Linked DNA regions of Homo sapiens. The protein of the gene in region 4 purifies or fractionates together with the protein of the main gene of each other region. This does not show direct contact. Each region holds a gene or a part of one and is shown on either strand. Other genes may lie near its edges.

What was found.
Region 1: the proteins of SLF1 (region 4) and NSMCE4A purify together in Homo sapiens (affinity purification with mass spectrometry; one large-scale study listed by BioGRID and IntAct). This does not show direct contact.
Region 2: the proteins of SLF1 (region 4) and PPM1F purify together in Homo sapiens (affinity purification with mass spectrometry; one large-scale study listed by BioGRID and IntAct). This does not show direct contact.
Region 3: the proteins of SLF1 (region 4) and CD8A purify together in Homo sapiens (affinity purification with mass spectrometry; one large-scale study listed by BioGRID and IntAct). This does not show direct contact.

Annotation. Positions count from the first base shown.
Region 1 is NC_000010.11:121,961,459-121,965,375, forward strand, and holds part of NSMCE4A (non-structural maintenance of chromosomes element 4 homolog A), read right to left. Parts: coding exon 3,828-3,917; intron 1,871-3,827; coding exon 1,780-1,870; intron 650-1,779; coding exon of another isoform or gene 543-649; exon of another isoform or gene 295-542; intron 60-294; coding exon 1-59. UniProt on the Homo sapiens protein: Component of the SMC5-SMC6 complex, a complex involved in DNA double-strand breaks by homologous recombination. The complex may promote sister chromatid homologous recombination by recruiting the SMC1-SMC3 cohesin complex to double-strand breaks.
Region 2 is NC_000022.11:21,928,788-21,932,704, reverse strand, and holds part of PPM1F (protein phosphatase 1F), read left to right. Parts: intron 1-1,413; coding exon 1,414-1,557; intron 1,558-3,917. UniProt on the Homo sapiens protein: Dephosphorylates and concomitantly deactivates CaM-kinase II activated upon autophosphorylation, and CaM-kinases IV and I activated upon phosphorylation by CaM-kinase kinase. Promotes apoptosis.
Region 3 is NC_000002.12:86,788,114-86,792,777, forward strand, and holds the start of CD8A (T-cell surface glycoprotein CD8 alpha chain isoform 1 precursor), read right to left. Parts: upstream 2,801-4,664; 5' UTR 2,713-2,800; coding exon 2,664-2,712; intron 2,569-2,663; coding exon 2,215-2,568; intron 1,638-2,214; coding exon 1,527-1,637; intron 1,321-1,526; coding exon 1,210-1,320; intron 448-1,209; coding exon 417-447; intron 1-416. UniProt on the Homo sapiens protein: Integral membrane glycoprotein that plays an essential role in the immune response and serves multiple functions in responses against both external and internal offenses. In T-cells, functions primarily as a coreceptor for MHC class I molecule:peptide complex.
Region 4 is NC_000005.10:94,663,282-94,667,198, reverse strand, and holds part of SLF1 (SMC5-SMC6 complex localization factor protein 1), read right to left. Parts: intron 3,450-3,917; coding exon 3,291-3,449; intron 1,339-3,290; coding exon 1,175-1,338; intron 1-1,174. UniProt on the Homo sapiens protein: Plays a role in the DNA damage response (DDR) pathway by regulating postreplication repair of UV-damaged DNA and genomic stability maintenance.

The DNA.
Region 1 (3,917 bases), on a different chromosome or scaffold from region 4:
TGTACGGGGGAAAGAATGAGGATCAACCACAAAGTCAAAGAAGGACATTGGGGTATCAGCTATAGACAAAAAGAGAAAAAAAAATTGATTTTTGCTTGTCATTAATATCAGTACACTCTAGCGTTAGCCAGAGACAAAGAAAGGATGTGTACTCATTCCTGCTGCAGGAGTGCAAATCAATCCAACCCTTCTGGAGGCCAATTTGGCATCTCTACTAAAAACATGTATGCCCACTGACCTGGAAACCACCTCTAAGAAGCTGTGCTACAGAAATACAAGTGTAACTGCACAAAATTACATACTAAGATTTTTTACTTCAGCAATTTATACAAGAGTAAAATGCTATAAAGAACTTAATCATCCAGCTGGGCATGGCACTCACACCTGTAATCCCAGCACTTTGGGAGGCCGATGCTGGCAGATCACCTGAGGTCAGGGGTTCAAGACTAGCTTGGCCAACATGGCGAAACAATGTCTCTACTAAAAATACAGAAAAAAAATTAGCCAGATGTGGTGGCGCGTGCGCCTGTAATCCCAGCTACTCAGGAGGCTGAGGCAGGAGAATTGCTTGAATCCAGGAGGTGGAGGTTGCAGTGAGTTGAGATGGTGCCACTGCATTCCAGTCTGGGCGAAAGAGTGAGACTGTCTCCTAAAAAAAAAAAAAAAAAATAGGAACTTGGCCGGGCGCGGTGGCTCATGCCTGTAATCCCAGCACTTTGGGAGGCCGAGGTGGGTGGATCACAAGGTCAGGAGATCAAGACCATCCTGGCTAACACGGTGAAACCCAGGTTCTACTAAAAGTACAAAAGAATTAGCCAGGCGTGGTGGCGGGTGCCTGTAGTCCCAGCTACTTGGGAGGCTGAGGCAGGAGAATGGCGTGAACCCAGGAGGGAGAGGTTGCAGTGAGCCAAGATCGCGCCACTGCACTCCAGCCTGGGCGACAGAGCGAGACTCTGTCTCAAAAAAAAAAAAAAGGAACTTAATCATCCATTAATGGAGGATCTGTTAAATATATTTACAGTACAGCCATATAATGGGAATCAGTGAACAAAACAAGGGAGATCTATATGAAATGATGTGGAAGAATGTCCACATGGAAAAGTCACGTAGCAGAAGAATGTGCATATTATGATTAGCTTGGAAAAAAAGAAAAAAACAAACTTTTTTTTTTCAGATGTAGTTTCGCTCTTGTTGCCCAGGCTAGAGTGCAATGGCGTGATCTTGGCTCACCGCAACCTCTGTCTCCCGGGTTCAAGCGATTCTCCTGCCTCAGCCTCCCAAGTAGCTGGGATTACAGGAATGCACTACCACACCCGGTTAATTTTGTATTTTTAGTAGAGATGAGGTTTCTCCATGTTGGTCAGGCGGGTATCGAACTCCCAACCTCAGCCTCCCAAAGTGCTGGGATTACAGGTGTGAGCCACCACGCCCGGCCAAAACAAACTATTTAGGTAGGTGTGTATAAAACTGATAAAATAATCTGAAAATATACACATTACATTTTATAATGAGGGGAGGTGGAACAGCTACTTTTGACATTTCTCACTTGAATGGCATATTTCATTTTGTAACAAAAAAAATCCCCATCTTTTAAAGATAAAAATGAAAACGTTAACTTCAAAGTTTTCACATGAAATTTCTAAAGGGGAGAAGAATCCTCATAAAATGCATATGTATTTATTCAAATATTACATACAGCTGAAATTGCCTTTTAAATACAAGTAACCTCAGTGAACAGATAAATACAAATTGCTCCACTTTGAATGGTGTTACACTTACGATCTTCTCGAAAATATGTCTGCAACAATCCCAAGATTCTTTCTACTTCTTTCTCTGTTGCTTCTTGATGAGATTCTTCCATTCTTCTTAACTGAAAAAAGTCATTATCAAGCTGACAGACCTACTTACTGGCCTATTAACGTTTTCTTCTCTCTTGCACACCCAAACTCCTTTTCTTCTCTCTTGCACACCCGAACTCTTTTTTTTTTTTGAGACAGGGTCTTGCTTTGCCACCCAGGCTAGAGTGCAGTTGCATGATCTCGGCTCACTGTAACCTCAGACTCCTGTGCTCAAGGGATCCTACCACCTCAGCTTCTTGAGTAGCTGGCACTAGAAGCGTGCACCACTACACCTGGCTAATTTTTTTTTTTTTAATTCATTCTACCTTGTCTAAGACACCTGGCTAATTAAAAAAAATTTTTTTAGATATGGGGTCTTGCTGACCATCCTGGCTAACACGGTGAAACCCCATCTCTACTAAAAATACAAAAACTTAGCCAGGTGTGGTGACAGGCGCCTGTACTCCCAGCTACTCAGGAGGCTGAGGCAGGAGAATGGCATGAACCCGGGAGGCGGAGCTTGCAGTGAGCCGACATCGCGCCTGTAATCCCTGCGCTGTAGGAGGCTGAGGCAGGTGGATCACAAGGTCAGGAGTTCGAGACCAGCCTGGCCATTATGGTGAAACCGTCTCTATTAAAAAACACCAAAATTAGCCGGGCATGGTGGTGCCTGCCTGTAATCCCAGCTACTTGGGAGGCTGAGGCAGGAGAATGGCTTGAACCCAGCAGGCGGAGGTTGCAGTGAGCCGAGATCGCGCCACTGCACTCCAGCCCGGGTGATAGGGCAAGACTCTGTCTCAAAAAAAATTATGGTTTAAAAAAAAACAGATTTTCTGGTTTCAGTAACTTTTTTTTTTTTTTTTTGAGATGGAGTCTTGCTCTGTGGCCCAGGCTGGAGTGCAGTGGTGCCATCTCGGCTCACTGCAACCTCCGCTTCCCAGGTTCAAGCAATTCTCCTACCTCAGCCTCCAGAGTAGCTGGGATTAGAGGCACCCACCACCACATCTGGCTAATTTTTTGTACTTTTTAGTAGAGACAGGGTTTCACCATGTTGGCCAGGCTGGTTTCTAACTCCTGACCTCAGGTGGATCTGCCCGCCTTGGCCTCCCAAAGTGCTGGGATTACAGGCGTAAGCCACCACACTCGGGCAACCTTTGTTTTTTTTGAGACGGACTCTCGCTCTGTCGCCCAGGCTGGAGTACAGTGGCATGATCTCGGCTCAGTGCAACCTCTGCCTCCTAGATTCCTAATTCTCCTGCGTCAGCCTCCCGAATAGCCCGGACTACAGGCACCTGCCACCATACCTAGCTAATTTCTGTATTTTTAGTAGAGACGGGGTTTCCCCGTATTGGCCGGGCTGGTCTCGAACTCCTGACCTTGTGATCTGCCCGCCTCGGCCTCCCAAAGTGCTGGGATTACAGGCGTAAGCCACTGTGCCTGGCCTCAGTAACATTTTCATATCAATTTCTTAATAGAATAGTAACATTACCAGATTAACCATTTTCAGGTTGAACATAAAATAGCAAAATACAAAAGGGCGGTTTAGAAACAGTGGTTCTCGAGTGGGTGTGACTTTCCCCCCACCTCCCCAGGGAACATTTGTTGTCACATGTAGACATTTTTGGTTGTCACAACTCAGGGGTCGGGGGGGCTATTAGCATATAACAGGTAGAGGCTGGGGATGCCGCTAAGCATCCTACAATGCGCAGGACAGCTCCCCAAACCAACATTATCCAGCCGTAAATGTTGACAGTGCTGAGGTTGACCCTGGCTTCGGAGAACTGATCAAAACTAGAGAAATGAGTTAAAACAAAGACAAGCAGCCAATCCAATAAAATGCTTAAAGGCTTAAATAAAATGATTATTTAAGTGACAAAACCTGGCTCCAGACCCGCACACTTAGAAAAAATGGCCAAATTGCATGCACATTATTTTAACAGCTATTTTAACTTTAATGTGTTTTTTTAAAAGCAACATTTTAAAACAAACCTGGGCAGGCATTGCCCTCTCCTCTTGTATCACAGGAACTTTTCTTGGACGATCAACTCGTGGCTTTGGCACAGGGCACTCTCCGTATAT
Region 2 (3,917 bases), on a different chromosome or scaffold from region 4:
ATGAGGCATTTGTTTCTGAAAGAAGAAAGAATACAAATGCATCAGGCCCCTCCTCTGTGAACTTAGCCACTCTGAACCTCACCCACAGAATTTCACTAGGTCCTCCTTGTAGCCCTGTGAGGTGAATACTAATATTGTACCCATTTTAGACATTGGGAAACTGAGGCTCAGGTTGCTTAAAAGACCCGCCCCAGTGAGAAGACACCAGGGGAAAGGTGCACTTTTGTCACACGCTCTGAGCACAGACCTTCATGGAAATTAGCAGAGCCAGGCTTTGCATCTCAATAGAAAACCATGCAATCTCTGCAGCTGCAAGGACCCCAGTGAAAAGCAGGCAAGCCTCCACTCCTGGCCTCTCACCTCAGCCCCAGGAAGTGACAAAGGCCTCTGAGCTCAAGGCAGCCTCAGAGTAGAAAAGGGATTCTCTGAAGCAGGCGTAACTGCTTTATTGAGGCTGGGCACAGTGGCTCACGCCTGTAATCCCGGCACTTTGGGAGGCAGAGGCCGGCGGATCACTTCAGGTTAGGAATTCGAGACCAGCCTGGCCAACATGGTGAAACCTCGTCTCTACTAAAAATACAAAAATTGGCCAGGCGCGGTGGCTCATGCCTGTAATCCCAGCACTTTGGGAGGCTGAGGTGGGTGGATCACTTGAGGTCAGGAGTTTGAGACCAGCCTGGCCAACATGGTGAAACCCTGCCTCTACTAAAAATTAAAAAAAAAAATTAGCCAGGTATGGTGGCACGCGCCTATAGTCCCAGCTACTTGGGAGGCTGAGGCATGAGAATCACTTGAGCCCAGGAGATGGAAGTTGCAGTGAGCTGAGACTGTGCCACTGCACTCCAGCCTGGGTGACAGAGCAAGATTTTGCCTCTAAATAAATAAATAGCCAGGCGCAGTGACTCACGCCTGTAATCCTAGCACTTTGGGAGGCCAAGGCAGGCAGATTGCCTGAGCTCAGGAGTTCAAGACCAGCCTGGGAAAGAAACATGGCAAAACCCCGTCTCTACTAAAAACACAAAAAATTAGCCAGGCGTGGTGCTGTACGCCTGTAATCTTAGCTACTTGGGAGGCTGAGGCAGGAGAATCACTTGAACCCGGGAGGCGGAGGTTGCACTGAGCCGAGATTGTGCCACTGCAGCCCAGCCTGAATGACAGAGCAAGACTCTGTCTCTAAATAAATAAATAAATAAATAAATAAACATCTTTATTGAGATACAATTGACAGGTAGTAAGTGGTGCATATTTGAAGTCCACAATTTGGCAAGTTTTGGCTTATACACATATACACCTGTGGATTCCTCACCACAGTAACGGAAGTATTCATCACCCCCGGAAGCTTCATCCTGCCCCGTGTCATCCTCTGCCCTTCCCTACCTCCTCTCAACTCTCATGGGCCCTCTCTCCCTGCAGCGGCTGCAGAGCGGCACCACAGGTGTGTGTGCGCTCATTGCAGGAGCGACCCTGCACGTCGCCTGGCTCGGGGATTCCCAGGTCATTTTGGTACAGCAGGGACAGGTGGTGAAGCTGATGGAGCCACACAGACCAGAACGGCAGGTAAGGGGATCCCTGCGCCCAGGCCCAGGATATTCCTGGCCTCCATCATGCTGGGCCCATAGGGGAACCCCACCCAGCCTGGGAACTTCAGGTAGTAGTAATCCTGGCACCTTTCAAGAGGGAGGGCTCCCTGCCTGATTTGAGTGGCCGGGGGTCCCACGTGAGCCCTTCCTGAGAGCTCTGTGGGTCACAGCTATATGGAGCCCAGAGCTCCGGGGGAGAGCAGAGCCCTCTGCACTGACAGGCATCCCAGTGCAGTCAGTGCAGCCCAGTGCAGACCAGAGCCCATCATACACACGGACAAGGAGGCCACAGGCTGTGGGTGAGGAAGGCCTCAGGGAGGTGATGCTGCCCCGAGGCTGGAGGGAACCTGGCTTGGGGCTGTACTGACTAGAGGCTGCCTGGGACCCTGGCACTCAGGTCATCACCTGGACATGAGGATGACAGTCCCACTCAGACCTCTTCTCAGAAGACTGTCTCATCCATGTGTCTCCTGAGGTTGGATTGCGAGCATTCAGATATCATGGAATGACTGTTTATCCCTCAAACCCCACTTTTCCCACGTGCTGTTCTCCACCAGCTATGTTTGATTAACCATGCACATGGTGGATAATTCTACGTCAGCACATAGGAGCACCCATCCTTTCTTGGGGCTGCGGACATTGCATTCATCATGCAGTCCCTTGTGGGTGAGCATGAAGATCTTTTCAGTCTTTCGGTGCTAAAAACAATGCATCTCTACCTACTTTGTGCAGCATTAATTGCTCAGAGTCAAGTGTACCTATATCTGTAGGACACATCCCCAGAAGTGGGATGGCTAGGTTGGAACTGATGCACGTACAGTCTGGGTAGATTTGCCAAGCTTCCCACCTCAGGCCATGCCAGCCTGGGCTGGCACTACATTCCCAAGAAGGTCCATTTCCCCACAGTCTCACCAGGCTGCAGGATTCTTCCTGTCAGGTAAGAAGCCTGTCTTGGGGCAATTGTTAAGTTTGCTTTTCTGTTACAGAGTGAGTTTGAGCGTGTTTTCAAAAGCTGAAGATCATTTACACAGCCTTTCCTGCAAACACTGTTTTTTTCCTTTGCCTGTTTTTCTTATCAGTTTATAGGTTCCTTGTATATGTGAAGGAGGTTGGTTCCTTGTCTGTGATGATTTGCAAATGTTTTTCCATGCATCTTTTATTTTTGTTTATGGGCTTTTGCCACATGGAGGCTTTGTGTTTTTCTGTAGTTGAGTAGTCTTTTTGTGGCTTCTGGTTTGGAAAGCACATAGAGACACCAGGACTTGATGATTGTAACAGTCAGGGGCAGCTACATTCCTTGGCCTTTCACTGCGGCTCACGGTCTGGTATGGGCCCCCTGTACGTCCTCTCCCCATTGTACAGAGGAGAAAACTGAGGCTCAGTCACTTGCCCAGAGCACACCGCCAAAGTCACAGATAGTCTCTGCCACTCCCCTGCCTCCACCACCGTGGGGGAATTTGGCACCTGCTCCCTAGTGGGCTCTCCTCCCCAGGATATGCAGTCAGATGAAATGTGGCCAAGTCAGGATTCGTGCTGGGCCCACTCCCACCTGCTGCCTGCACACCTACAGGCTCAGCATTCAGCACCCCATTAAAGCCCAGTGGGGGCTCTGTTCAAACACTGCCTGAGTCCTGCAGTATGGCGTCGTGGCAGAGCATGGACAGATGGCCTTGCCTGGTCCCGGCTCCACCGCTTCCAAGTCCATCACACAGGGGTCCCTGGAGGTTTGGGGTAAGGATTGAGTGTCCCAGTGCATGTGGAGCACAGAGATCAGAGCTTGCACAAGAGAAGCACACACAGGTGTCTGTGTTCTTGGCTGCAGCCCGCATGGGCCAAGGAGTTCAGATCCAGTGCCCCCCACCTCCCCTTTCCTGCCGCCATGCTCTGTAGGCTTGGCCCCTCCTGCTGTGATCCTGATCACAGCCTTCCACCCTAGAGAATTAATCACAGATCCAGGCCAAGGTTCTCCCACAAAAACAAGCATCATGTCGGTTACAAGAGCAAGAAACTGGCCTCAACTTGGCGAGCTTCAACGGGGGTCCAGCAGCGGCCCAGAGCAGCTTCCAGGAGTACGTGGGGGGAGTGCGTGGTGCTCTGCCTTGTTCTGCGGCTGTCTGAACAGTCTCCTGCCTCTGCACTCAGTTCAGCCTCCAAACACTGAGTGCCCACTCTGCACAAGATACTTTGTTGAGGCAGTGAGATAACACAGGACCCACTTCCTGCCTCTAAGTCTAATGGGGGAGCAGGAGGAGGGCAAGGACCTGGCAGGATGAGGCAGAGAGATGAATGGAATGGAGCCGCATCTCAGGCAGTTGCAATTCCTGCAGGCCAGGGGAG
Region 3 (4,664 bases), on a different chromosome or scaffold from region 4:
AAAAACTAGACCAGCCAAGTAGGAAAAAAAATTGTTTTCTTAAGAAAACAACAAAACCCAGATGGAATAATCAGAATAAAGAGGAGGTCAGGTCCTACGAGGAGCTAGGATAAATTGGGGGAATCCCTCAGGTTTTTTTTTTTTTTTTTTGGAAGTGCCAGGTCAAATAAGATGGAGATTTACTGGAGTCACACTGCTGTTGGCACCCGCCTAACCCGGGCCTCCTTTTTCTCAAAGACACAGGCCAGATGCCAGCCTTGGCCTCTCTTTGCTCAGGAACTGGCTGACTCCCTGCCCCAGGATTTCACGGCCATGACCTCTCTCTGGGAAAAGTTCCCACTATTTGCTGCTGGGGAAACCAGGACCCCACCCCAGGGCTGGCCAAGGTGAGCAGGCTGAGTTCAAAAGAGACTCACCGGGGACATTTGCAAACACGTCTTCGGTTCCCTGGATAAGGAAAAAGAAGGGAAAAAGTGAGTGCCCCTATCCATCAATAGTCCCCAAAGACAGTGTATTTTTTGTTGTTGCTGTTGTTGTTGCTGCTGTTTTTTGGTTTTACAAAAAATCATTTCAGAACGATCATGGGCTGAAATTGGATGAGGCAAATAGGGAATTGCCTCTACGAATTCTCCTTCCTTTCCCCTATTTCTTTGAGGATTATAACTCTTGAGAGCCGGGTAAGGGCTTCTTATCCATCCTTCGTCTCAAGCATCAATTAAAAAAAATTGCAACTACAGACGCGGGCGAAAGCGGGGAGCCTGCAGACCTGATCCGGCACCTCTCTTGCATGGGACCCAAAGCAGGGTGGGCGGTTCGCCGAAGAGGGCCAAGGACGAACCTCAAACTGATGGTGGTTTTGACTAACCCTCCTGGGCACTTGACTCGGCCACAGCGGCCCCCTCCCGGCGGGCGTTTGTCATGTGTCCAGACATGTGCGCGCGCGCTGCGGGCTTCGTCGACGGAACACACCCGCTGCAGCGGCTCTGGGAACGCGGCTTTGTCTCCCAAAACCTCTCCGAGAGCGCAAGGAGCGGGAAGGGCTTTCTCGCATTCTATCTCCCAGAAAGAAGTGCCTGTACCTGCGGGGCAGCTCGGGAGTCCCAGAAAACTCAACCCCAAGCTCCCCCCTCGCAAGGTCCGCCTGGAGCTAGCAGAGCCAAGGGCAGGAGCGGGGCCGACTCCTTCCCGCCGCGATTCCTCGGGACTTACTGTGGTTGCAGTAAAGGGTGATAACCAGTGACAGGAGAAGGACCCCACAAGTCCCGGCCAAGGGCGCCCAGATGTAGATATCACAGGCGAAGTCCAGCCCCCTCGTGTGCACTGACGACACCAAAGACGCCGACATTTAGGAGAGGGCCCGGGACCTCCCAACCGCCCCACCGTCCCGGGAACGTCTCTCCGCCTCAGATCTCGGTTTCCCACCACTTGGACAGCCCTTGACTCTACCTACAGTATCAGGGCTGTCCCTGGCATGGGCTCTCCCCGCGGTGCGTGCCGCCCCCGCCCCGGGCCCCCGCACGCCTCACCTGCGCCCCCCGCCGCTGGCCGGCACGCCTCTGGGCGCAGGGACAGGGGCTGCGACGCGATGGTGGGCGCCGGTGTTGGTGGTCGCGGCGCTGGCGTCGTGGTGGGCTTCGCTGCAAGAGCAACAGAGCGTGGTTGGGGGCCAGGCTGGGGTTATGGAGGCGCCCCAGCCCCGGCCTCGCGCACCTTTCCCCACGGGGACGCCTCCCCCCGGTTTTCCTGGGAGAAGGGATAGCAGAGGAGACAGGATGGGGACCCCGGGATGCGCGCGGACCCCTGTGCTCGGGCCTCGGCTCAGCCCAGCGCACCCGGCGCCCAGAGCCGGAGCGCAGGAGCCAGCTCCCCTGCACCTGGCCTCTCTCCCGGGCTGAACCAGCAACCCTGGAGCGCGGGTTGATTGCTGTCCGCATTTTACCCACGAGCAAACGGAGGCGCAGATAATTTAAGTCATTTGCCCAGAATCACACAAGAATCCGAACTCGAGTCCAGATCGGCCGGACGTAAAAAGCCATCCCCAGTCCCTACTCAGCCTCGCGTTAGCCTCAGTTTGCTGTGTCTGTGAAATGGGAACAGTATCTAAGTCGCTTCCAGGTGCGCTAAGAGGCTTGAAAGCAGGGCCCAGGTGTGGAAAACAGGTTGAGGTGAACCCCAAGCCCCACGCGGAGAGGTGCCGCAACCCGGCGCGCGGACCTGGCAGGAAGACCGGCACGAAGTGGCTGAAGTACATGATGGAGTTGCTCAGGGCCGAGCAGAAATAGTAGCCCTCGTTCTCTCGGCGGAAGTCGCTCAGGGTGAGGACGAAGGTGTCCCCCAACCTCTTGCCCGAGAACCGCTGGGTGTCCAGCCCCTCGGCCGCCTTGGGCTTGTTTTGGGAGAGGTATAGGAGGAAGGTGGGACTGGCGGCGGCGCCGCGCGGCTGGAAGAGCCACGAGCAGCCCGACGTCGGGTTGGACAGCAGCACCTGGCACTTCAGCTCCACTGTCTCGCCCAGGTTCCAGGTCCGATCCAGCGGCGACACCCGGAACTGGCTCGGCCTGGCGGCGTCTGCAGGCGGCAAGCAGCGAGGCTGAGCCCGCAGTCCCGCGCCCCCCGCCCCCCGCCCGCCCCATCCCCTGCCTTCCCGGGCGTCTCAAACTCACGGAGCAGCAAGGCCAGCGGCAGGAGCAAGGCGGTCACTGGTAAGGCCATGACGCGCTCCCCAGGACGCTGCTTGGCTCGAAGCTCGGGCGCGAGGGGAGGCGCGCGGGAGCCGGTGGGGCGCCGAGGGGGGAAAGTTGCGCCCTTCGGCCGGCCCGGAGCCTGATTTCGCATTTGGAGGATGTGATGTCACCCGAAGCCCCCGCCGAGGAGAGTCACCCTCCTTTTCGCGGTTGTCGCCTTCCAGCCCGGCGAGGAGGCTGGGGCCCGTGAATAGGGCCGTCGAGGCAGCCTGGCCAGGCAACTGGGGGCAGCTGAAAACTGCGGGTTTGGGGATGAGGAAAAGGGCTTGGAAATAGTCCTTGGAAATGGTTGTCTTGTGAGAGTGACAGAGTGGGTGAAGGGAGACCAAAGATTTCAAGAAGTGAGGGCGAGAGTAGGCAGCAAAGGAGGGGAGTGTCCCTTCCTTTGCCTTCACTAAAGGCGTCTCTTGTACTGTCACCTTGGGACTTTTTATTGGCAAAATGGGCACTGAGGGCTGAAAAGGAAGAGGAACTAGCGACCTGCCCGCTTCTGAGGAACTCGCTAGAGCAGCCCCAGTTTTCACCGAGGAAGGACCCTCTCCCTTCCCCCAGGAGATTTCCATGAGAGCGGCAGCAGCCGAAGCTTTGGGTGTCGGTGTCAGTGCGCTGCTGACCTCATTCTTCCGGCCTTTCATCCAGCGGCTAAACTCACCACACAGCCTCATCTCTTCTTGGAGCCATTGCAACAGCCTTCAATTCACACCAGTCTCTCTCCTGATCAGTCCTCCAGCCACGTTGTTATAAAAATTATTATTCTCACAAAGGGGATCTGACAGCGTCACTGCTGCAGCCTCCCATGGCCTGCATTGCTGGATGGAAATTCAACCCCCAGCTTGGTTGACCAGCCCTTGGGTGCTGGCTCCTCCCAGCCTCCGCACAGCCCCCTGCCCTGCCTTTCCCATACACCTGCAGCTGCAGCTTCACAGGCTTGAAGTCATTCAACCCCTGCGCTCTGTGCTTTCACGCCCTTGCACTTGCGGTCCCTCGGCCTGGAATGCTGGTCTGTTTAAGCCCTGGAGGCAGCTCCTGTGCTGTCTCATTTGGACCTCATTTCTTTCACCCCCAGCTCTGGGTGCTCTGCAGGGAGGTGTGGGTGATGTGGGTGAATGCTTGGGTAGAGGCGGTTTTCTCTTTTCTGTCCCTAACACATGTGTGTCCCCTTCCTTTTTGTTTCTTTAAAAAATAAAATAAAATAAAAAAGACTGGAGTCTCGCTGTTTTGCTCAGGCTGGCCTTGGGACTCCTGAGCTCCAGTGATCCTCCCACCCCAGCCCCCTGAGTAGCTGGGACTACAGGCTCATCTTTCCTTTTTGACTGTTGCTGTCCTGAAACCTTCCAGCTCCAGTGGCATGCCCTCTTCCCATTTCTTCAGGGTTTCTGAGTCTTTCCACTTTGAATCCCATAGTGGCTGCACCTCACATTGCTACTGCTTGATCCTAGAGACAAGACACCTGGCATTCTGTGTTCCATGTGTCTGCCCCACCCATTAGTTCTGCTGGGCGAGGACCATGCCGAGACTTCATGATGTGTCCTCCATCCCCAGAAACACAGCATGGGCTGAGCTGTGCTTGTTGAACTGCATTCTCCTTGTCCTTGTGAAGTACAAACTTAAGTGTTGGATGGGTTCTTTGTCGTTGTTGCTATTTTTTTTTTTGAGATGGGGTCTGGCTGTGTTGCCCAGGCTGGAGTGCAGTGTGGCACCACCTCGGCTCACTGCAGCCTCTACCTCCCAGGCTCAAGTGATCCTTCCACCTCAGCCTCCCAAGTAGCTGGGACCACAGGAGCACACCACCATGCCCAGCTAATTTTTTGTATTTTTGGTAGAGATGGGGTTTCACCATGTTGCCCAGGCTGGTCTCCAATGCCCGAGGTCAGGCGCTTTGCCCCGCCTTGGCCTCCAAAGTGTTGAGATTACAGGTGT
Region 4 (3,917 bases):
AAATGTAGTACAGTGTCTGGCTCTCCGTAAGTACTCAAGAATTTGTTAAAAGAATGAATAAATGCATGCTGGTTAACTGATTAGCTCACTTTAAATATATCACAACCAAGATGGTATGTGAATCTTTATGATCTCAAAGAGCTAACCAGAGGTCTAGCCTTTGCATGGCTAGTCAGGTGTCCTTTCTCCACTATGAACCTCCTGAAACTGGACACTTAAATTAAAAAAAAAAAAAAAAAAAAAAAGATCTTCCCAGCCAGGCGTGATGGTCCACTCCTATAATCCCAGGACTTTGGGAGCCCAAGTCAGGCAGATCACTTGAGGCCAGCAATTCGAGACCAGCCTGGCCAACATGGTAAAAGCCCATCTCTACTAAAAATGAAAAAATACAAAAATTAGCTGGACGTGGAGGCACATGCCTGTAACTCTAGCTACTTGGAAGGCTAAGGCATAAGAATTGCTTGAGCCTGGGAGGTAGAGGTTACAGTGAGCCAAGATCAGGCCACTGCACTCCAGCCTGGGTGACAGAGCGAGACTCATGTCTCAAAAAAAGAAAAGATCTTCCCAGAAGAATAAGGGTTATCAAATACAGTTATTTGAATAGCAAGGGGAAAACATTTTCTGTTAGGGAGAAAGAAGGTGAAACAGAATTTCTGGAGACACTAACAACTGAAAGACAGAGGAAGGTCTAGGCAGTGACAGCATGTGCAGAAGCATAAAAGAGATGACATATTTAGGAAATATTAAGTTCTGTTTTAAAATTCAAATTTCTAGCTGAAAAAAATATAACTGAAGCCCTAAAATAGATACTATAGTTACAAATGTCTACACTTTTGGTGACAAAAACTGATGATATGCATATTCCATAAATTAATTTTCTTCATTTAAAAAACAATACACAAATTTCTATTTTGTTAAAAATAATAATGATTTGGCTTTCTAGTGAGTCCATTTCATGCATTCATTTTTTATTTTTTTAGGAAACAGACTGAAAAACATGACCAATATAGATTTGCCTTTTCATAAGTTTTGCAATAAATACAATACATATTTGTATTTGCAACAAAACTTTTCCAAAAGTAGAAAGATACTTCTTTCATCAGTATCTTAAAAAAATAATTAGCATAACAACTACTCAATGAAATGTAGCATCGTCAAATGTGAAATTCCTTACCTGATAAGGACTTCTACTAAAGACCATGCTCCTTTCATACAAGTTGGACACTGAAACAACTCTAAATAATATCTCGACATGGCTGGAGACTTCCAAGGAGGATGCAGGTGAAGAAGAGCTGACAATATATGAAAGTATCGACCAGAAAATGTATCTATGTTATCCTATTATTTAAAAATAAACAAACAAATAAAACACTATAGCTAAAAGTAGTTTGACTCTCTAATTCAGTCTAAAACCAAAACAGTAACCCTGGCCTAACTTTCTTTTTTGAGACGGAGTCTGGCTCTGTCACCCAGGCTGGAGTGCAGTGGCACGATCTTGGCTTACCTCAACCTCCGCCTCCTGGGTTCAAGCGATTTTTCTGCCTCAGCCTCCTGAGTAAGTAGCTGGGACTACAGGCACCCACCACCATGCCTGGCTAATTTTTGTATTTTTAGTAGAGATGGGATTTCACTATGTTGGCCAGGCTAGTCTTGAACTCCCGACCTTGTGATCTGCCCACCTCAGCCTCCCAAAGTGCTGGGATTACAGGTGTGAGCCACCACGCCCGGCCTAACGCTGGCCTAAGTTTCTTGCCAAATATACGTGTTTAGACAAAGGAGAGCAGATGGAAGCATCATGTTTAGCTAATTAAATAAAGCAACTGAGAGACAGGCACACTCTATGTACAGCTGATACCTGAATAACAGGTTTTAACTGCATGGGTCCACTTACACATGAATTTTTTTCCAATAAATGCAGCCTACCCTTCACGTCCATAGGTTCTACAACTGCAATTAAATACAGTATTCTGTATTTGGGAGGCCTCGGCCTCTGAAAGTGCTGGAATTACAGGTGTGAGCCACAGCACCCGGCCTACTAAGAAGTTTTAATTTCCTCACCTGTAAAATAAAGATAATTCCTGCCCTTGCTGCTGAATGAGATTATGTAGTTCAAAGAGGATGATATGTATGACTGTATCTTATTAGTTATTGTATTAATTATTTTCTATTGCCTTCAGTAGTGAAGGAAATTTTTTTCCCTAGTAGTAAGGGAAAATTTTACAATTACCTCTAAAAGAAAAACCTTTAAAAATACAGTATTCACAGGATGTAAAACCTTCGTATGTGGAGGGCTGACTTTTCCTATAAGTGCAGGTTCTGAAGAAGCAACTGCAGGACTTGATTATGTGCAGATTTCAGTATCCACAAAGGTCCTGAAACCAATATCCTGTGACAGCAAGGGATGACTCTATCTATACATTGGGTAATCCCTTCTATTAACACTACCTTAGATGGAATACACATTTTCCTTTTCACAATTATAGTGAGATTTAAGAGGTCTCAAATGTTACCTGAAAGGAACTAAAAGTAACAAACTATTCATGCAACATGCTTACTTATCACCAACATAACATACCTGACAAAGCTTATGCCTGTTATGTTATCAAATTAGCACCTTGGTGAAGGGCATGATTAGAAAGCGATCTTTGAATATTTGTTCCTATTGGTTTACACAGTTTGGGTATGTTCCCAGCATGGGCAACATAGCAAGACTCCATCTCTACAAAAAATTTAAAAATTAGCCAGGCATGGTGGCATGCGCCTACAGTCCCAGCTACTTGGGAGGCTGAAGCAGGGGGACTACTTGAGCCCAGGAGGTTGAGGCCACAGTGAGCCATGATCACACCACTGCAGTCCAGCCTGGACAACAGAGAGGGAACTTGCCTCTATTTCTTTTTAAACAAAGAGTATGTTCATTATGTATACTATAAATAAAAATGATAATCATCAATGTACTAATGGAGTAATTTACCAAATGTAATTCTAGATCACCATAATCTGAATTTTATATTTGATACTTTACTGCCGTGAGAAAAATTAGATAACCTTTTTCCCCAAAACAAAATTATCTTAGAAATCCTGAGAAAATCATTAGCTAAAGCACTAAGAGTAGTACCTAGTATGTAGCTGGAAAACAGAACAGTAGTAATAAATGGGTACTGCATTAGTGAAATGAAGAAAAAAAAACACTGAACAGGGAAAATAAACTGTAAACATACAAAAAGTGAGAAAATGTTCACATTTTAACATTCTTTGAAAAAAAGATTATAAATCCTTAAGGCTGCTCTTACCTGTAGAACGTTCTCTAGAAGGGCATGAAGAACGCATACAGGAGGGATATAATGTGCCTGCAAAGTGGAAAGTTCCTCAATTGCTTCTTTAAAAAAATGTCCTTCTATGAGGCTTTCAATTAAATTTAATACACCTCTGGGAAATTCAGCATTTTTAACCTAAGAAAGGAAAGATTCTATGATTCAGAGAAAAGAAAGATAAAATTTTGCAATCAAATCATGAATTAGTAAGAATTTATTATTTATTTATTCATTCATTCATTTGAGACGGAGTCTCACTCTGTTACCCAGGCTGGAATGCAGTGGTGCGATCTCGGCTCACTTGCAACCTCCGTCTCCCAGGTTCAAGTGATTCTCCTGCCTCAACCTCCTGAATAGCTGGGCCTATGGATGCGTGCCACCACACCCAGCTGATTTTTGTATTCTTAGCAGAGACGGGGTTTCACCATGTTGGCCAGGCTGGTCTCAAACTCCTGACCTCAGGTGATCCACTTGCCTTGGCCTCCCAAAGTGCTGGGATTATAGGCGTAAGCCACTGCACCCAGCCTAGTAACAAATTTTAATTTCCTCATCTGTGAAATGAAGATAATTCCTGGCCTTGCTGCTGGATGAGACTATGTAGTTCAA